5 linked regions of the Homo sapiens genome follow. The protein of the gene in region 3 purifies or fractionates together with the protein of the main gene of each other region. This does not show direct contact. Each region holds a gene or a part of one and is shown on either strand. Other genes may lie near its edges. The genes, in order: ZYG11B, DCAF10, SLAIN1, ZER1 and PLS1.

The links.
Region 1: the proteins of SLAIN1 (region 3) and ZYG11B purify together in Homo sapiens (affinity purification with mass spectrometry; one large-scale study listed by BioGRID and IntAct). This does not show direct contact.
Region 2: the proteins of SLAIN1 (region 3) and DCAF10 purify together in Homo sapiens (affinity purification with mass spectrometry; one large-scale study listed by BioGRID and IntAct). This does not show direct contact.
Region 4: the proteins of SLAIN1 (region 3) and ZER1 purify together in Homo sapiens (affinity purification with mass spectrometry; one large-scale study listed by BioGRID and IntAct). This does not show direct contact.
Region 5: the proteins of SLAIN1 (region 3) and PLS1 purify together in Homo sapiens (affinity purification with mass spectrometry; one large-scale study listed by BioGRID and IntAct). This does not show direct contact.

The regions. Positions count from the first base shown.
Region 1 is NC_000001.11:52,732,948-52,736,466, reverse strand, and holds part of ZYG11B (protein zyg-11 homolog B), read right to left. Parts: intron 1-3,519. UniProt on the Homo sapiens protein: Serves as substrate adapter subunit in the E3 ubiquitin ligase complex ZYG11B-CUL2-Elongin BC. Acts to target substrates bearing N-terminal degrons for proteasomal degradation with the first four residues of substrates being the key recognition elements.
Region 2 is NC_000009.12:37,838,788-37,842,306, reverse strand, and holds part of DCAF10 (DDB1- and CUL4-associated factor 10), read right to left. Parts: intron 219-3,519; coding exon 21-218; intron 1-20. UniProt on the Homo sapiens protein: May function as a substrate receptor for CUL4-DDB1 E3 ubiquitin-protein ligase complex.
Region 3 is NC_000013.11:77,742,687-77,746,205, reverse strand, and holds part of SLAIN1 (SLAIN motif-containing protein 1), read right to left. Parts: intron 3,191-3,519; coding exon of another isoform or gene 3,041-3,190; intron 1,924-3,040; coding exon 1,774-1,923; exon of another isoform or gene 1,748-1,773; coding exon of another isoform or gene 1,690-1,747; intron 1-1,689. UniProt on the Homo sapiens protein: Microtubule plus-end tracking protein that might be involved in the regulation of cytoplasmic microtubule dynamics, microtubule organization and microtubule elongation.
Region 4 is NC_000009.12:128,737,418-128,740,936, forward strand, and holds part of ZER1 (protein zer-1 homolog), read right to left. Parts: intron 3,471-3,519; coding exon 3,355-3,470; intron 2,703-3,354; coding exon 2,514-2,702; intron 1-2,513. UniProt on the Homo sapiens protein: Serves as substrate adapter subunit in the E3 ubiquitin ligase complex ZYG11B-CUL2-Elongin BC. Acts to target substrates bearing N-terminal degrons for proteasomal degradation with the first four residues of substrates being the key recognition elements.
Region 5 is NC_000003.12:142,683,377-142,686,895, reverse strand, and holds part of PLS1 (plastin-1), read right to left. Parts: intron 2,891-3,519; coding exon 2,725-2,890; intron 2,644-2,724; coding exon 2,501-2,643; intron 613-2,500; coding exon 520-612; intron 1-519. UniProt on the Homo sapiens protein: Actin-bundling protein. In the inner ear, it is required for stereocilia formation. Mediates liquid packing of actin filaments that is necessary for stereocilia to grow to their proper dimensions.

The sequences.
Region 1 (3,519 bases), on a different chromosome or scaffold from region 3:
AAAAGAAAAAAAAGAAAAAGAAAAAAATTAGCTGGGCATGGTAGTGCATGCCTGTGATACTCAGGAGGCTGAGGTGGGAGAATCACTTGATCCCGGGAGGCAGAGGTTCTAGTGAGCTGAGATCACGCCACTGCACTTCAGCTTGGGTGACAGAGAGAAACTCTGTCTCAATAAATAAATAAATAAATAAAACACTTTCATTCAACAACTATTTGCTGAGTCCCTACTATGTGCTAGACATCACCAAGTACACAGGATACAGATCTCTGTAGATTCACTGCTGTCTATATGAATGGCTGTTAGCTGAATTGTGCAGTACAATCTGTATAGCACAGCAGCCCTGTAAGACCACTGTAAACTAGCAGGGCCGAAACTGCAGGCTCCACAAGGATCTTAAGGAGTTCACAAATTCCCATGCATATCAAGTACACTCTGTACACAATAATATCTTGATATTTTTAATGCATAATAGATGTTAGACTTAACAGAGTATCATTTTAAAATATTACTGAATTCCTACTGGACCTGCTTTTTGCTTTTTCTCCCCCACAATTAATATGTTCTGAAAGTATGTTACTGTCCTGTCTCTCAAGGTTTTCAGTGTTAAAAAGGTATCTTCACAGGGTCTATTGTCTCAGACAATAGGGAGGAATTTAAAACTTCTGAGTAGGAAGACCAAGGCAGGCAGATCACTTGAGGTCAGGAGTTCGAGACCAGCCTAGCCAACATAGTGAAACCCCATCTCTTCTAAAAAATACAAAAATTAGCCGGGCATGGCAGTGGGCGCCTGTAGTTCCAGCTATTCAGAAGGCTGAGGCAGGAGAATCACTTGAACTCGGGAGGCGGAGGCTGCAGTGAGCCGAGATCGCGCCACTGCACTCCAGTCTGGGTGGCAGAGAGAGACTCTGTCTCAAAATAAAAAAAATTCTGAGTAGGAAGAGTGGCACGCCTCCAGTCTTTTCTCATTCCACCCTTGCCTAGTTACTATACAATTTCTTTTTCTTTCATTTATGAGCCTGAAAAATCTTAATCACAATTACTTAGTGTGAGAATAATACTTGTAGCATTAAGTTTGTCAAAGAAATACTTAAGTGCTGAAGACATATTGTTCTTCAAAGTGCTTTAGAAAAGTGATTTGGGCCGGGCACGGTGGCTCATGCCTGTAATCCCAGCACTCTGGGAGGCCGAGGCAGGCGGATCACCAGAGGTTGGGAGTTCGATACCAGCCTGACCAACATGGAGAAACCCCTCTCTACTAAAAATACAAAATTAGCCAGGCATGGTGGCACATGCCTGTAATCCCAGCTACTAGGGAGGCTAAGGCAGGAGAACCGCTTGAACCTGGGAGGCGGAGGCTGCGGTGAGCCGAGATCGCGCCATTGCACTCCAGCCTGGGCAACGAGAGAAACTCCGTCTCAAAAAAAAAAAAAGTGATTTGGACCGGGCGCAGTGGCTCATACCTGTAATCCCAAAACTTTGGGAAGCCAAGGCGGGCGGATCACCTGAGGTCAGGAGTTCAAGACAAGCCTGACCAACATGGAGAAACCCTGTCTCTACCAAAAATACAAAAATTAGCTGAGCACGGTGGCACATGCCTGTAATCCCAGCTACTCGGGGGGCTGAGGCAGGAAAATCGTTTGAACCCGGGAGGTGGACGTTGTGTTGAGCCCAGATTGCACCATTGCACTCCAACCTGGGCAACAAGAGCGAAACTCCATCTCAAAATAAAAGAAAAAGAAAAAGAAAATTGGTCAGAGAGTGTGTACAATTTTGTGGTTCTTGAACTCATACTGCCAAATCACTTTTTTTTTTTTTGGAGCCAGAGTTTCACTCTTGTTGCCCAGGCTGGAGTGCAATGGCGCGATCTCGGCTCACTGCAACCTCCGCCTCCCAGGTTCAAGTGGTTCTCCTGCCTCAGCCTTCTGAGTAGCTGGTATCACAGGCATGCGCTACCACACCCAGCTAATTTTTTATTTTTTATTTTTTTTTGAGATGGCAACAGATTGAGACTCTTTAAAAAAAAAAACCTTTTATTCCATTGTTAATAATGACTATTTCTACCGCTTATTAAATATACTTTAAGAGCTAGTTTTAGGACCTATGAAAAAAGCAGTGTTTTAGCCAGCATTTCCCAATTCATCTACAGGCTCACATCATTACATTCAATATTGATGTCTGCCGGGCTCATGGCTTGACATCCCAGCACTTTGATGGGCTGAGGCAGTAGGATCACTTGAGCCCAGGAGTTTGAGACCAGCCTGGCAACATAATCTAGACCCTACCTCTACAAAAATAAAAAAAATTAGCTGGGCATGCTGGCATATGCCTGTGGTCCCAGCAACTCAGGAGGATGAAGCAAGAGATCATCTAAGCCCAGGAGTTCATGGTTATAGTGAGCTATGATTACGCCCCTGCACTCCAGCCTGGGCCACAGAGCAAGACCCTGTCACTATGAAAAAACAAAACAAAAAAAAATTATGTCTATTTCAATTTGTATATTTTTGAATATTTAATAATTATCTAAAATTTTCTCCTTTATAAAAATAGAATAGTTTGAGAGTATCCAACAATTTATCTACTGAATGTGTGTCAATTAGTGGGAATTAGGAGAATGGCTCATGATAAAGTCATTGCATTGTTATAACTTAATCTGAACACTGAATGCAGTAGCTTTTCTTTGTATAACAAACTGTTAAAGACAAGAAATATAAGTACATTGATGATGAAATACAAGAATGAGTACATTTATCTGATCATGATTCTTAAATGATACATCAAGATATCTCTGATTGATTGATTGATTGATCTTACAGTGTCTTGCTCTGTTGCCCAGCCTGGAGTGCAGTGGTGTGAACCCTGCTCACTGCAGCTTCAACCTCCTAGGCTCAAGCAATCCTCCCACCTCAGCATCCTGTGTAGCTGAGACCCCAGATGTGCGCTAATTTTTTCATTCTGTGTAGAGATAGGGTCTCACTATCTTGTCCAGGCTGGTCTCGAACTCCTGGGCTCAAGCAATCCACCCACCTTTGTCTCCCAAAGTGTTGGGATTATAGATGTGGATTACAGGCGTGAGCCACCATGCCCAGCCTCACAAAAACTATACAAAAAATATACTCTTGGAAATCATTAAGCATGACCTCTAGAACAAACACATTTAATAAAAAAGAATAAAAACTAACATTCTATTTAAGAGATATTACTATTATTTTGAAATCAGGGAACCTATAAAAGGTTTGATATACAAATTTTACCACAGAGTAAAATCTGATAAAACTTTCTCAGTAACTTAAGATAATTTTACGTACAGAAATTCAATGCAAGATACTCTGAAAATGACTAGAATGATGATCCTACAGAGAACTAGCTGAGGCTTGTTTGTAAATTTTACTGAAATAGGAAATAATTCTGTCTTTGTATACAATTGCTTCCACGCATGAGCTTTATCTAAGGAAAATAACCTCCTATGTTGGGTTAATAATTTTTTTTTTTTGAGATGGAGTTTCACTCTTTTTGCCCAGG
Region 2 (3,519 bases), on a different chromosome or scaffold from region 3:
ATGGTCTCCTATTCACAAACCTGTTAGTGTCCCAAATAATGACATTTCCATCAAATCCTGATGTTACTAAGAGTCTTGTATTAGTATCATATTCGATGTTCTTCACCCAGCTAGTGTGACCATGTAAAGTGCATACTTTGGTGTTCAATTTTCTCAGATCCCATAGTGCTATTGTAGTGTCATCAGAGCAGGTAGCAAACAGCCGGTTATCAAGAAATCTATAAAAGCAGAAAAACAAAACCCTGGTTCATTTAATCTCTTTTTAAAGGAAAATTGATTTGAGAAACAGTCACTATATTACCTAGTCAAGAAAGAAAGAAAAAAAGGACTACACACTCACTATGTAAACCCAATGACTGATATACTATAAAAAGTATACTTTGCATAATCACAGAGCCAGGATACTATGATTTAATGACAGTCATATTGCAATTGGATCCATTTGCTTTAAATTACTGATTTTTATTTGAAATTGGAAATAGGGGTAAGTGTTTGGAAAACAGTGACAGAAGGGAAAAAAAGAACTTCAGAATCTCTATAGGAAACAAAAATGATGAGAGAGAATTTAATAGGCGATAGAGGAAGTTTTGAAGACTTGATTGCCGAGAGGGACACATTACACATAATCAAAATCATGAGAAATATTTGCTCTGCTACAAGGAACATCTTTTTCTATTTAGAACACAGTTACATACAAAAATTGCTATAAAATTGCCATTATTTTAAATCTTTTAACTGAAAGGTATTTCCCAAATAATCTCTTAGCAACATTTTATTAGGACCAATCAAGAAAATTACAAAATAGGCTTAAAATACTCTATAATTCAGACTTTTTATTATTTTACACTAACTTCTCAATCCTTAGTGAGAATATATTTAATACAAATACTTAAAAAATAAACTACTATTCACACTTGAATTTTTGCTTAATTTAACATTAGGATGCTTTCTGTAATACATGCTGTTATCCTAATCTCTTACAGAAGAAATGAATTCTGGTGCTTCTTCTAAGATAAATTTACATATAATTGTCAGAAATCAACCTCAATATCCACAAACACCATAACGACCTTCCTAAAATTGATCACGGTTTTCAAATACCAGGCGTTTACACAGGTTGTTTCTGCTAGGTGAAACAACCTTCCTCCTGCCCCTGGATCTGGCTAATTCTTGCTTTCTTTTTAATACCATCATGTGTCACTTAATGATGGAATACATTCTGAGAAATGTGTCCTTAGGTGATTTTGTTGTTGTGTGAACATCATAGAATGAACTTACACAAACCTAGATGGTACACACTGAGGTTATATGGTATATATGGTATATAGCCTATCACTCATAGGCTACAAATGTGCACAGCATGTTACCATACTAAATACTGTAGGCAACTGTAACACAATCGTAAGTATTTGTATATTGAAAGATAGAAAAAATACAGTAAAAGTACTGTATAAAAGATTTAAAATGTTACGCCTGTATAGGGCACTTACCATGAATGGAGCTTGCAGGCGTGGGAGTTGCTCTGGGTGAGTCAGTGAGTGAGGGGTGAGTCAGTGTGAAGGCCTAGGGCATTACTGTCCATTACTGTAGACATTATAAAGACTGTACACTTAGGCTACACTAAATTAATTTAAAAATTTTTCATCAGTAATAAATTAACCTTCGATTACTATAACTTTTTTTACTTCATGAATTTTTAATTTTTTAAACTTTTGACTCTTTTGTAATAACAGCTTAAACACAAACACATTGTACAACTGTACAAAAATATTTTCTTTCTTTATAGCCTTATTTTATTAACTTTTTTCTATTAAAATGTTTACTTTTTAAACTTTTTTGTTAAAAACAAAGACACACATTAGCCTAGTTCTACACAGGGTAAAAATCATCAATATCACTGTCTTCCATCTCCACATCTTGCCCCACTGGAAGGCCTCCAGGGGCAATAACAGGAACAGAGCTGTCATCTCCTGATAACAATGGCTTCTCCTGGAATACCTCCTGAAGAACCTCCCTGAGGCTGTTTTACAGTTTAATTTTTTTTTAAGTAGGAGTACATTCTAAAATAACAATAATAAGTATAACATAGTAAGTATTAGGCAATAGGAATTTTTCAGCTCCATTATAATCTTCTGGAACCACTGTTGTATATGGTGTCACTCACTGAAATGTTGTTATGTGGCATATAACTGTATTCAGCTGTTATGCCCTCCAGGAAGCCTTCCTTGTTTAACCAGCCTGGTAGACCTACCAATTCTCTGAGCTCCCAAAGCATTCTGGGAGCTTCTATCATAATACTTAATATTATACTGTAAGGAACAACTTTACTGTAAACTCCCTGAAGACAGAAGGAACCTGTCTGCCTAGGGTCATGGTTAGATCTGCAGTATACAATACACATGGTGCCAGACACATATGCACTCAACAAATACTTACAAAATAAATGAAAGAGAAGTTCACTGCCTAGCAGAAAAGACACTGTAAGTACATAATTACACGAAATAATTGTGTGGAATAAGCAAAGAGGGTGGCTGGGAAAGACTTCATGATGTTATCATTTGAACTGAATAAAAGATGAGCAGGAACTCCCTAAGTGGTCAGGGTTACTAAGCAAAGATACACAGGCATGTGAGCGGATGGTGCCCTCTGAGAAGCAGCAGTTAGGAGTGCTGTGTGTGGGAAAGTAGAGATGACTAGGGAATACATTATGGATTTATTCTATGGTGATTACCAGTAACTATTTTTTAATTATAAAAATACATTTCCTGGCCAAGCGTGGTAGCTCATACCTATAATCCCAACATTTTGGAAGGCCAAGATGGATGGATCACTTGAGCTCAGGAGTTTGAGACCAGCCTGGGCAACATGACGAAACCCCATCTCTTATTTTAAAAATAACGATAACAAAAAACATTTCTACTGAAAATATTTTTAATGAAAAAAAATCGGCTGGGCGCAGTGGCTCACGCCTGTAATCCCAGCACTTTGAGAGGCTGAGGCGGGTGGATCACAAGGTCAGGAGTTCAAGACCAGCCTGGCCGAGATGGTGAAACCCTGTCTCTACTAAAAATACAAAAAAAATTAGCTGGGCATGGTGGCGGGCGCCTGTAATCCCAGCTACTCGGAGGCTGAGGCAGAGGCAGAGAATTGCTTGAACCCGGGAGGCGGATGTTGCAGTGAGCTGAGATCGTGCCACTGCACTCCAGCTGGGGCACAGAGCAAGATTCCGTCTCAAAAAAAAGAAAAAGAAAAAAAAAATCCATCACCAAAAATAACCACTTTATTGATGTTTAGCTTAATTTCTGTTTTAAACCTAATATTATCTCAAAAACATATTGCCATTATTAAAGGTTTATTAACAAAATCATGTTTAATGGCTGAATAGTGTTCACTGTATGAAGAACTGAAACCTTTTTTCTTTTTAATTTTTTTTTTTTTGGAGACAGAGTCACGCTTTATCCCCCAGGTGCTCACTGCAACCTCTACCTCCTACATTCAAGTGATTCTCATGCCTCAGCC
Region 3 (3,519 bases):
TAGAAGGGGAACTTAGGAAGAAATATTCATCTCATTATGAATAGTTTGCTATGAGTTAAAACAACTAAAATCTTCAAATCTCTGCCCAAGTAGGAAGTCATTCTGCTCCCCACCCCCAACTTTTAAAGTCAAAGGGAAAGTTTAAAAGCCGAGGTACAAATATTTTCCCACAAGGTCATCTCTCTATTGTTCTTTTATGTTACTAATATTATCTCTTTCAAAGCACACTGACACCTCAATACTTCTAATAGTTTTAGGTCATCCTATAAGGTAATCATCTAAAAATAGTCAAACTACAAAGTTCTCATTATTTAACCCATTGCCAGTACTACAATTTTTAAAAAAAGTGGTCTATCCCTGACTACTTAACTTCTGAAACTGACATACAATCTTTTAGCCATATATATTTTTAGAAAGAGTATTTAAATTTGCTTTTACTAAATAATTATATAAAATAACCACTTTTCCCCTTAAAAATGTATCTATTAAATCCTGCATAAGCATTACCATGTTTCTCATAGAAGCCTTGACTAATTCTGAAAACAGGAAATTATTATGCTTAAATGATACTTGATTATTTCTACTTATGTTGGTGGAAAAGATAACTCCAAAACAAACACTCCAGTTCTGTGCCTTTTGATACCATTAATGCCCTTCAACTAGTTCACTCCCAGATAATTTTTTGTAACTTTATCGCAGAACCAGTGAAAAACTATCCTATTTCTACTTATCTACTCTTTCACAATTATTTACCTGGAGAAGTATGTCAATGCATTTTAACTGAAATTTTAAGATAACTGTAGACTCACATGCAGTGCTTAAAAAAAAACAAAACTGTACACTTTGCCCAGTTTCCCCCAGTGGTAACATTGTGCAAAATTATAATAATATGACAGCCAGGGTATTGGCAGTGATATAATCCACTCATTTTATTCAGATTATCGCAGGTGTGTGGGGGTGTGTGTGTGTCTGTGTCAGAAAGAGATAGAGAGAGTATTAAGCTGTATGCAATTTCATTACCTACAGGTTCAAAGATCCACCAATGAATAGTACCAACACTGCAAAAATCCTGTGTTGCCCTTTTATAACTACATCCAGCTTCGAGACCCTCTTGAGACCCTAAGCCCTATACCTAACTCCACCAACCACTAGTCTGTCCTCTGTTCCTAACATTTTGTCATCTCAAAATGTTATATGTGTGGAATTATACAGTATGCACTCTCTTATGATCAAATTTTTTATTCACCATGATTCCCTGGAGCTTCAAGCAAGATGTTGTGTATATCAGTAGTTTGTTCCTCTTTATTGATGAGTTATACTCCATGGTATAGATGTAACATGATTGGTTTAATCATTTACCCACTGAAGGCCTTCTAAGCTAATTCCAGTTTTGGGCTATAAAGGTGCTCAGAACATTCACGTGCAAGTTTTTGTGTAAACACGAATTTCCACTATTCTGGGATAAATATCCAAGAGTGCAGTTTGCTGGGCCACATGGAAGTTGCACCTTTAGTTTTTTAGGAAACTGTCCATCTGTTTCCACAGTGACAATACCAGCAATGTCCATGTATCAATGTGTTTTCATCAGACTAAGTCCTACCACCTCATGATAGTGTGAGAAGCATATAACTGGCTCCACCTAAAAAGTAGGACAGTATGAGAGAAAGAATCTAATTATTTGCCCATTACCTGGAGAGAAATGCCTGAACCTCCCCCTCTGCCTGTATATTCCAAGTGGAAGCCTCATTTTGCTAGTTTAGAAAGAACACATACTTTCTTCTTGCAGACGAGCCATGATCTGAACATCAGTGAGGTCCTGTAATTTATATCCCATGGAGATAGAATCATCCTCCAATTCTGAAGTACTCAGCTCACTGTCGATAGATGACTGGGGACTGAGTGGGGAGCCCCTGGAAGTGTAACCTGAAACACAAAGGAAAAGTGTGTTCTTCCATCTGCAGGACTGATATCTATACATGCTTCACAATTCATATATAAACAGTCAGCAATTTGTCTCATGTTTTCATGTTACAAAAATCACCAACATGTCACCATTTAATGGTCAACGTGCACATCATGTGTACACAATTCATATATACAAAACCACTTGTTCATTGTTTTCAAATTGAATTTTCACAATTTAAAAAGTCACCATGTACTATATACTTAAATTGTTAAGAGGGTAGATTTCACATTATATTTTTTATCACAATAAAAAATTCACTACTGCTAAAATCTACATCCTATTAGATATGTATATATCTAAAGGCATGATATTATAAGAATATATATTCATGTATACTTTAATAATAAGACACACTTGTCTGACAGTAACTGATAATATATTTTTAAATTAAATTTTAATCTGGTCCATTTCTTAATGAGTACAAACAGCAGTGCTACAAATGGGTAAGAATATCACATCTAAAAGGCACACATACATATGCAGAAATATATACAACACCCACATAATATAGACCAGAGAGTAGTCACGGGAGACTTATAGCCACCCATGAGGATAAAAAAATCAATGGCTTCAGATAAAAGAACCAAAGAACAAATAGAAGAAGGCTATAGGAATGGAATCATACCAATGCTGAGAAAAATAAGAAAATGGTGAGATCCTCATCTCATAAAAAGCCACTATGACTATTTTCTTCTACACAGCCTTAGCTAAATTTAAAAGCTACCAGAAAAAAATTAAAAAAAATACAGACTTACAATCTTGAATAATAAAAACTACCTTAATTGTGTTTGACATTTAATTTTAAAAGCACATAAGCATTTGGAAATACAGAACTGCATGCATATACTTTTGCTAAAGAGGGAAGACTGTCTGCTACATAAAATTGAGAGCAGTAGATCAATGGTGTTAGAGTACAAATTAGTGCTAGGCCTTTTGTACCCAAAGTAAGTGTGCAGCACAAACTCTCCACTCTTAAGATTATTCTCAAGCTTTTCAAATGAAAGATGAATATTTAAGCCGTGTTTAGTAACTGAATTACAAAGCAAGCAGCTAGTCAAGAAGTTAAAATATTACCTGTTTTTTCAGGTGTTAGTATTGCTTTATTTGAGGTTTTAGAGAAGCTGGGAGTATTAATGCCATTGCTATAAGGGCTGAGTCTTGCAACAGGACTATAAGGAAAAGCCAGTGAGGCAGTTGAAGAGAAGAGACTCCGCCATCGGCTAGCTGTCACAGAAGCAGAAAATAGCAGCAGTTAGCTATATGGAAGCATATGTTGACTTGTCAGAAGGAGAAAGGGAAGAGAATAAAAAAAAAAAAAAAGACAAAGCAACTTTTCATAGGACTATCTTAACTGACTTCCACTTATCTAAATAAAAAATATATACAAAATAAACAATTTGTGAATTAGGGTCCTATTTATACATCCATTTTTAAAAAGTAAATCAATCTTACTTTGATTAAAGCCAACATGCCTGTATAATAATGAAAATTTATTTTGAGTTTCTACGTTAGAAATGTTTTCAATTTTCTATTTCCACATAAGGATTTAGTGT
Region 4 (3,519 bases), on a different chromosome or scaffold from region 3:
CACACTGGCAACGCTACCAATGTCAGCCTGTTCCTCCCAGTATGGGTTTTCAACTGAAATGTCCATCTGTACAGGATGGCACAAAGAAAGTGACTCCGTCCTAAAATGACGAGGGAGATCCATGCCTGGTGATTGGCCAGTCAGTCACAAAACAGTAGGAATTGATGCCAGCTTGACTTAAAGTAATGAAATCTGTGCATAGAAACACTGCTGGAAGGAGACACACCAAAATGTCAACAGGAGTTCTCTTTCAGGGAGTGAGATTATGAACGATTCTTGTTTTCTTCTTCTTCTTTTTTTTTTGAGATGGAGTATCACTCTGTTGCCCAGGCTGGAGTGCAGTGGCGAGTTCTTGGCTCACTGCAACCTCTGCCTTCCAGGTTCAAGTGATTCTCCTGCCTCAGCCTCCCAAGTAGCTGGGATTACAGGTGCCCACCACCATGCCTGGCTAATTTTTGTATTTTTAGCAGAGATGGGGTTTCACTGTGTTGGCCAGGCTGGTTTCGAACTCCTGACCTCAGGTGATCCGCCTGCCTCAGCCTCCCAAAGTGCTGGGATTACAGGTGTGAGCCACTGTGCCCGGCCCTGTTTTGTTTTCTTGTTTTTTTTATTCATTTTTATTTTTATTTTTATTTATTTATTTTTGAGACGGAGTCTCGCTCTGTCGCCCAGGCTGGAGTGCAGTGGCGCGATCTTGGCTAACTGCAAGCTCCGCCTCCCAGGTTCACGCCATTCTCCTGCCTCAGCCTCCCGAGTAGCTGGGACTACAGGCGCATGCCACCACGCCCGGCTAATTTTTTGTATTTTTAGTAGAGGTGGGGTTTCACTGCGTTAGCCAAGATGGTCTCGATTTCCTGACCTCATGATCTGCCCGCCTCTGCCTCCCAAAGTGCTGGGATTACAGGTGTGAGCCACTGTGCCCGGCCCTGTTTTGTTTTCTTGTTTTTTTAATTTATTTTTATTTTTATTTTTATTTATTTATTTTTGAGACGGAGTCTCGCTCTGTCGCCCAGGCTGGAGTGCAGTGGCGCGATCTCGGCTAACTGCAAGCTCCGCCTCCCAGGTTCACACCATTCTCCTGCCTCAGCCTCCCGAGTAGCTGGGACTACAGGCGCATGCCACCACGCCCGGCTAATTTTTTGTATTTTTAGTAGAGGTGGGGTTTCACTGCGTTAGCCAAGATGGTCTCGATTTCCTGACCTCATGATCCGCCCGCCTCTGCCTCCCAAAGTGCTGGGATTACGGGTGTGAGCCACCGCGCCTGACCTTCTTCTTTTTTTTAAAGAAATGGTCTCATTCTGTCCCCTAGGCTGGAGTGCAGTAGCATGATGTTGGCTCACTACAGCCTCGACCTCCTGGGCTCAAGTGACCCTCCTGCCTCAGCCTCCCCAGTAGGTGGGACTACAGGTGTGCACCATCACACCCAGCTCATTTTTTTTTTTTTTTTTTTTTGAGATGGAGTCTTGGTCTGTTGCCCAGGCTGGAATGCAGTGGCGCCATCTCGGTTCACTGCAACCTCTGCCTCCTGGGTTCAAGCGATTCTCCTGCCTCAGCCTCCTGAGTAGCTGGGATTACAGGTATGTGCCACCACGCCAGGTTAATTTTTGTATTTTTAGTAGGGACGGGGTTTCACCATGTTGGGCAGGCTGGTCTTGAACTCCTGACCTCGTGATCTGCCCGCCTCAGCCTCCTAAAGTGCTATGATTACAGGCGTGAACCACTGCACCTGGCCTGATTTTTAAAATTTTTCGTAAAGAGGAAGTCTCACTATGTTGCCCAAGCTGGTCTTGAAATCTTGGGCTCAGCTGGACGCAGTGGCTCATGCCTGTAATCCCAGCACTTTGGGAGGCCGACGTGGGCGGATCACGAGGTCAGGAGATCGAAACTATCCTGGCTAACACGGTGAAAACTCGTCTCTACTAAAAATACAAAAAAATTAACCGGGCGTGGTGGCGGGTGCCTGTAATCCCAGCTACTCTGAGGCTGAGGCAGGAAAATGGCGTGAACCCAGGAGGCAGAGCTTGCAGTCAGCTGAGATTGCACCACTGCACTCCAGCCTGGGCGACAGAGCAAGACTCTGTCTCAAAAAAAAAAAAAAAAGAAAAGAAAGGAAATCTTGGGCTCAAGTGATCCTCCTGTCTCAGCTTCCCAAAGTGCTGGGATTATGGGCAAGAGCTACTGTGCCCGGCCCACCTGTATGGTTTTCTGTTGTGTGTCTATTTTCTCCCCACCCCTCCCCACAAATCAGTAGGTATTAGTGGTTTGCAAAGAGCAGGCTTTGGGTACATGCAGATGTTGGCATGTATGACAAATGCTCCAGGCTGCACGGATGAGATCGTGCCCTTATGTATGCTCTGTGCTGTGTGCGGCTACGTATCAATGAGTGAAAGCAGAACCCTACAGAAGACCAGAAGGAAGGTGGGAGCTCTGAGCAGACCTTAATGGTATGAGCATCCTGCCCAGCACTTACCCCATATTCCACACCGCATCCCCGCTCCCTGCCCTGCCCACACCTGTAATTGATGTTTCTCCGAGAGTTTATGTCCCAGCTCTGGATGGCAGCCCACATGCGTTCCTCCACCTCCTCACGCTGGGGCTCACAGACGCCCCAGGCCTCGGGTCCATCAAACATGATGTGGGAGAGGACGCCGCAGGCATTGTAGGAAACCTCGATCCCATCGGCCTTGCTCTCCAACAGGTTGCTGCCAGGAGAAAGACAGAAAAATGGAGTCCCACTCCCCCAGTTTCTCTTCAGATACCAGCGGCAGGACCCCAACTTAAAACCAGAAGCAAGAGGTGCTACTTATTTCTTTATCCCATATCGTCTATATACCCAGACTACTTCTAAAGGGATTTGAGGTCATTTAAGATATAATTACAGGCTGGGCGCAGTGGCTCACGCCTGTAATCCCAGCACTTTGGGAGGTCAAGGCAGGTGGATCACGAGGTCCGGAGATCGAGACCATCCTGGCTAACATGGTGAAACCCCATCTCTACTAAAAATACAAAAAAATTAGCTGGGCGTGGTGGCAGGCGCCTGTAGTCTCAGCTACTCGGGAGGCTGAGGCAGGAGAATGGCGTGAACCCGGGAGGCAGAGCTTGCAGTGAGCCTAGATTGTGCCACTGCACTTCAGCCTGGGTGACAGAGCAAGACTCCATCTCAAAAAAAAAAAAAAAGATATAATTACAAAAGGACCACTTACGAAGGATTGAATGAATAAGAAACCACATTATCGAGGGAAAATGACATTTATAGCAAACCTAGGCTAAGAGCAGTTGTGCAACTGAGCAAACGCTAGAGCTCTGAGCATTGTGGCAGCTAAGGCAAAAAGGGAAAGGATTAAAAATACCAACCTGAAGACGCTGATGAACTGGGAAGTCATTAGTTGAGGCCTCAGCTCCTTCACTTCTGCCACATTCCCCAAAAGTCCTAGCATATTCCTATGCAGTTCCTGCTTCTCTGGGAATTCCTGGGAAAAGGAGAGCCAATGGGCCGCATCAATTAGTACTTAATGACTT
Region 5 (3,519 bases), on a different chromosome or scaffold from region 3:
CACCCTGGTGAGTTCCAATTGCCTTGCACCAGGGAAACATGAATGTAGGATTGATTCCACAAATACTCCAGGTCACAATTACGCAGTTCCCTTTCTTCCGTCATGATAGCCAGTTGGCTTGACATGGAGGCTTGGAGCCTTGGGCATGGAAAAAACTTCCATAGAGCAAAGCACCAAACTTTAATGGAGGGCTGAGGGCTCTACTGGGGAATGCTGCTTGTAGAGAACTGTACTCTAAATTTGACTGTACCTGCTACTGAAATTCAAATTCATAGTCAAAAAGTAGAACAGTAGTTACCAGGGCCTGGGGGAAGGGGAAAATGGGGAGTTATTGTTTAATGAGTACAGAATTTCCCTACAGGATGATGAAAAGTTTGTAGAGATGGATAATGGTGATAGCTGCACAACAATGCAAATGTACTGAATGCCACTGAACTGAACACTGAAAATGATAAAAATGGTAAATTTTCTACGTCTGTTTTACCACAATATATTTTAAAAGTTAAAAATTGCACTCACATTAATTCCTGAAAGGTCAATGGCAATGGCAGGTCCATCTTCCCCACCTTTAGGGGCAATCTGATTAAGCAGATGAAAATAGGCTCTCGAGTCCTTCAAGGAAAGATATGAAATAGCATTTTTAAAACGAATAAAATCATCATTGAATTTAGGGAAAACAAGTGCTCAAACTGAAGAAATTGCCTCTATCTCAAAGAATGGAATAACTTTAAAAATAAAGAATTACTTGTAGGTTCCTGAATGTACCATGCTGTTTCACACTTCAGAGCTTCAAAGCAATCCTGTTTCACACCTCAGAGTTTATAGCAATGCTGTTTCCTGCACCTGGATACCCTCCCTTACTTTTCCATCTGTTTACACACCCAAGCATCAACATCAGTTAAGATTCAGGTCAAGTATTATCTCCCGTATGCCTTCCCTGGATTCTCTAGGATGAACTAAGAACCCCTCTTCTGTAGTGCACAGCACCCCTTGCCTATCTTAATAAGTAAACAGTGATCACACTATTAAATCATCTAATGTCATTGTCTCCAAAGATGGATATATAGTTCTTCCCCATGCATACATTAACTCTTCCCACCAAAAGGCAGAAGCTATTTCCTGTCCTCTTTAATTTGGACAGGCCTTATGATTCACGTTAACTAAGAGAATGCTGTGAAAGTGATGTTCTGGGGCTTCCACGCCCAAATCTTAAGAGCTTCTGCTTCCTCTCTCTTAAAGTTAACCTCTACATAAGAAGTCCAACTATCTGAGACTATCATGCTGTGAGGAAGCCTGAGCTCACCATGTAGAGAGGCCTTGTGGAGGAGCACTGAGGCACCAGACATGTGACTGAGGCCTTTGTGTACTTTCCAGATGAGCCCAACTGACAGCTGAATGTAATCGAGTTAGTAATCCCAGCCAAAACCATGTGAAGCAGAAGAACCACCCAGCCAAGATGCATCAACCCACAAAATGATGAGAAATAATCATTATTTAAGCAAATTTTGCATAATTTGCTATATAGCAATAGATAACTGAAATATCCCTCTGGTACATGTTTGTCTCTGAGTAGAATTGGCAAGCTTCTCAAGAGCTGAGTCTTTGCATCGCCTGGGCATAATGCCCCTCAGAAAGAGCTGAATAAATGTTTGATTAGCTGAATTTTCAGAGATTTCAGAATAAGAGAAATCTCCCAAATAAACTTTCAAATATAACAGTGTATAGTAGATGAAAGCAGAGAAATAAAATGTCACTTCAAATTGAGAGACTGTCCTGTAGGCCATTATGGAAAAAGATAACCTGACTGAAGGTTATATAGCTAAAGACGGAACATGAATTAGAGCCAGCACTGATTACTCTTGGGGGGCAGGATGGGGGAGGACATAAAGAAACAGAGAGAAGAAAAAAGTCACAGCGACCCGGCTTGGCAATGCCCATCCAGGCAGTAACCAAGGGAAAGTTGTCATTAGACAAAAATGCCTGTTATAGTTTCCTTGACAAGATTCTCCCAGTAGAGAGGGAAGTGTTTTAAGCTACCCTGGTTAAGGCACATACCTTAAGATCCCCTTTATTTACTGATTCTCTGTACCCTCAGATAATCTGATTTCCTGTTAGCTGGTTATTGGCAAAGTGGGAGTAAGAGTGTTAAACCAGTAAACAGATATAATTATTAGTCCAAATGAACAGACTGACATCCTCATTATAATCTAGCAGATCTCAGGCATAAAAAATGAGAAAGTGTGTTTTAATCTGTTGAGGCTAGCACCTCTTTCCTCTCACAGTCAGTTGTAGTTCTTATTAAAAGCCAATATATCTGGTTTTTAGAAAATATATATTTTGTGAATATAATTGGGGGATCTACTTCACACAGTAATGCAAATTTTCATTTTCTATCCCAAGTGTTCTTGTGAATTTAATTCAAATTTAAGTCTGAACCCCTTTTATTTTTACACTGCACATCCTTATTTCATGTCACAAATTTGAACATTTAAATATAAACCTTAATGTCTTGGCTGAAGTTGCTGATGGTATGCCATCCTGCATTGGTCAGATGGTAGTTCACCCATCGCAGCAGTAATTCCTCGGGAGAAAGCTTCATCAGCTCCTCTAGTTCCTCACCTTCATTTAACAATGCAATCAGAGCTGAGGGCAAAACAGCGAAATGTAAATTCTTCCCATAGCAAGTACATGTCAATGAACAGCAAATATTTCTAATGATCTTACCTTCATTCCTGGAAATCTCAATATCAGCAAAAAGGCCAACTTTGATGATCTGCCAGAGAAGTCCCAAGACCAAGTGAGGTTTTCCTTCTTTGAGATCTGATGCACCAATGTTGACCACTGTACAACCAATGGCTGAGGCAGAATTCAGAGCTAGGTTTAAATTTTCCTGAATTGCCAAAAAAAAAAGTACACATGAGGAAGTCCTTTCTAAGGTCTTATCTATAAAAATTATCTATAAGAAACAATGGACTGCCAAATTTCAGATTTATAAACATAATATTTATACAACGAAAATACCACTACTCAAAAAAAAAAACACATGGTTTTAACTGTTACTTTATATGCCAATGACTTTCAAATCCCTATTTCCACCCAGACCTCCTCTGAGTCTCCACTCTAAGCTGTGTATCTATATATGTACTTGGTTATGTCTACCTGGATGTTCTGCCAATACCTCAAACTCAACATGATATTTTTGTAAAGTGCTCATTTGGAAGCACTTCTTTAAAAAATGATGTACAATTAGGTTTTAAGATAATTTTAAAGTAACTCTTAAGATGGATTTTACAGATGAGGAAACTGCAGCACTGACAGTTTCCACAGTGGAAAGGCCGGGGTCTGATCCCAGCGGTCTCCCGAGCCCATCCTCTTTTTTATTTATTTTTTTTGAGACGGAGTCTCACTCTGTCACCCAAGCTGGAGTGCAATGGCACTATCTTGGCTCACTGCAAGCTCCGCCTCCTGGGCTCACGCCATTCTCCTGCCTCAGCCTCCTGAGTAGCTGAGACTACAGGC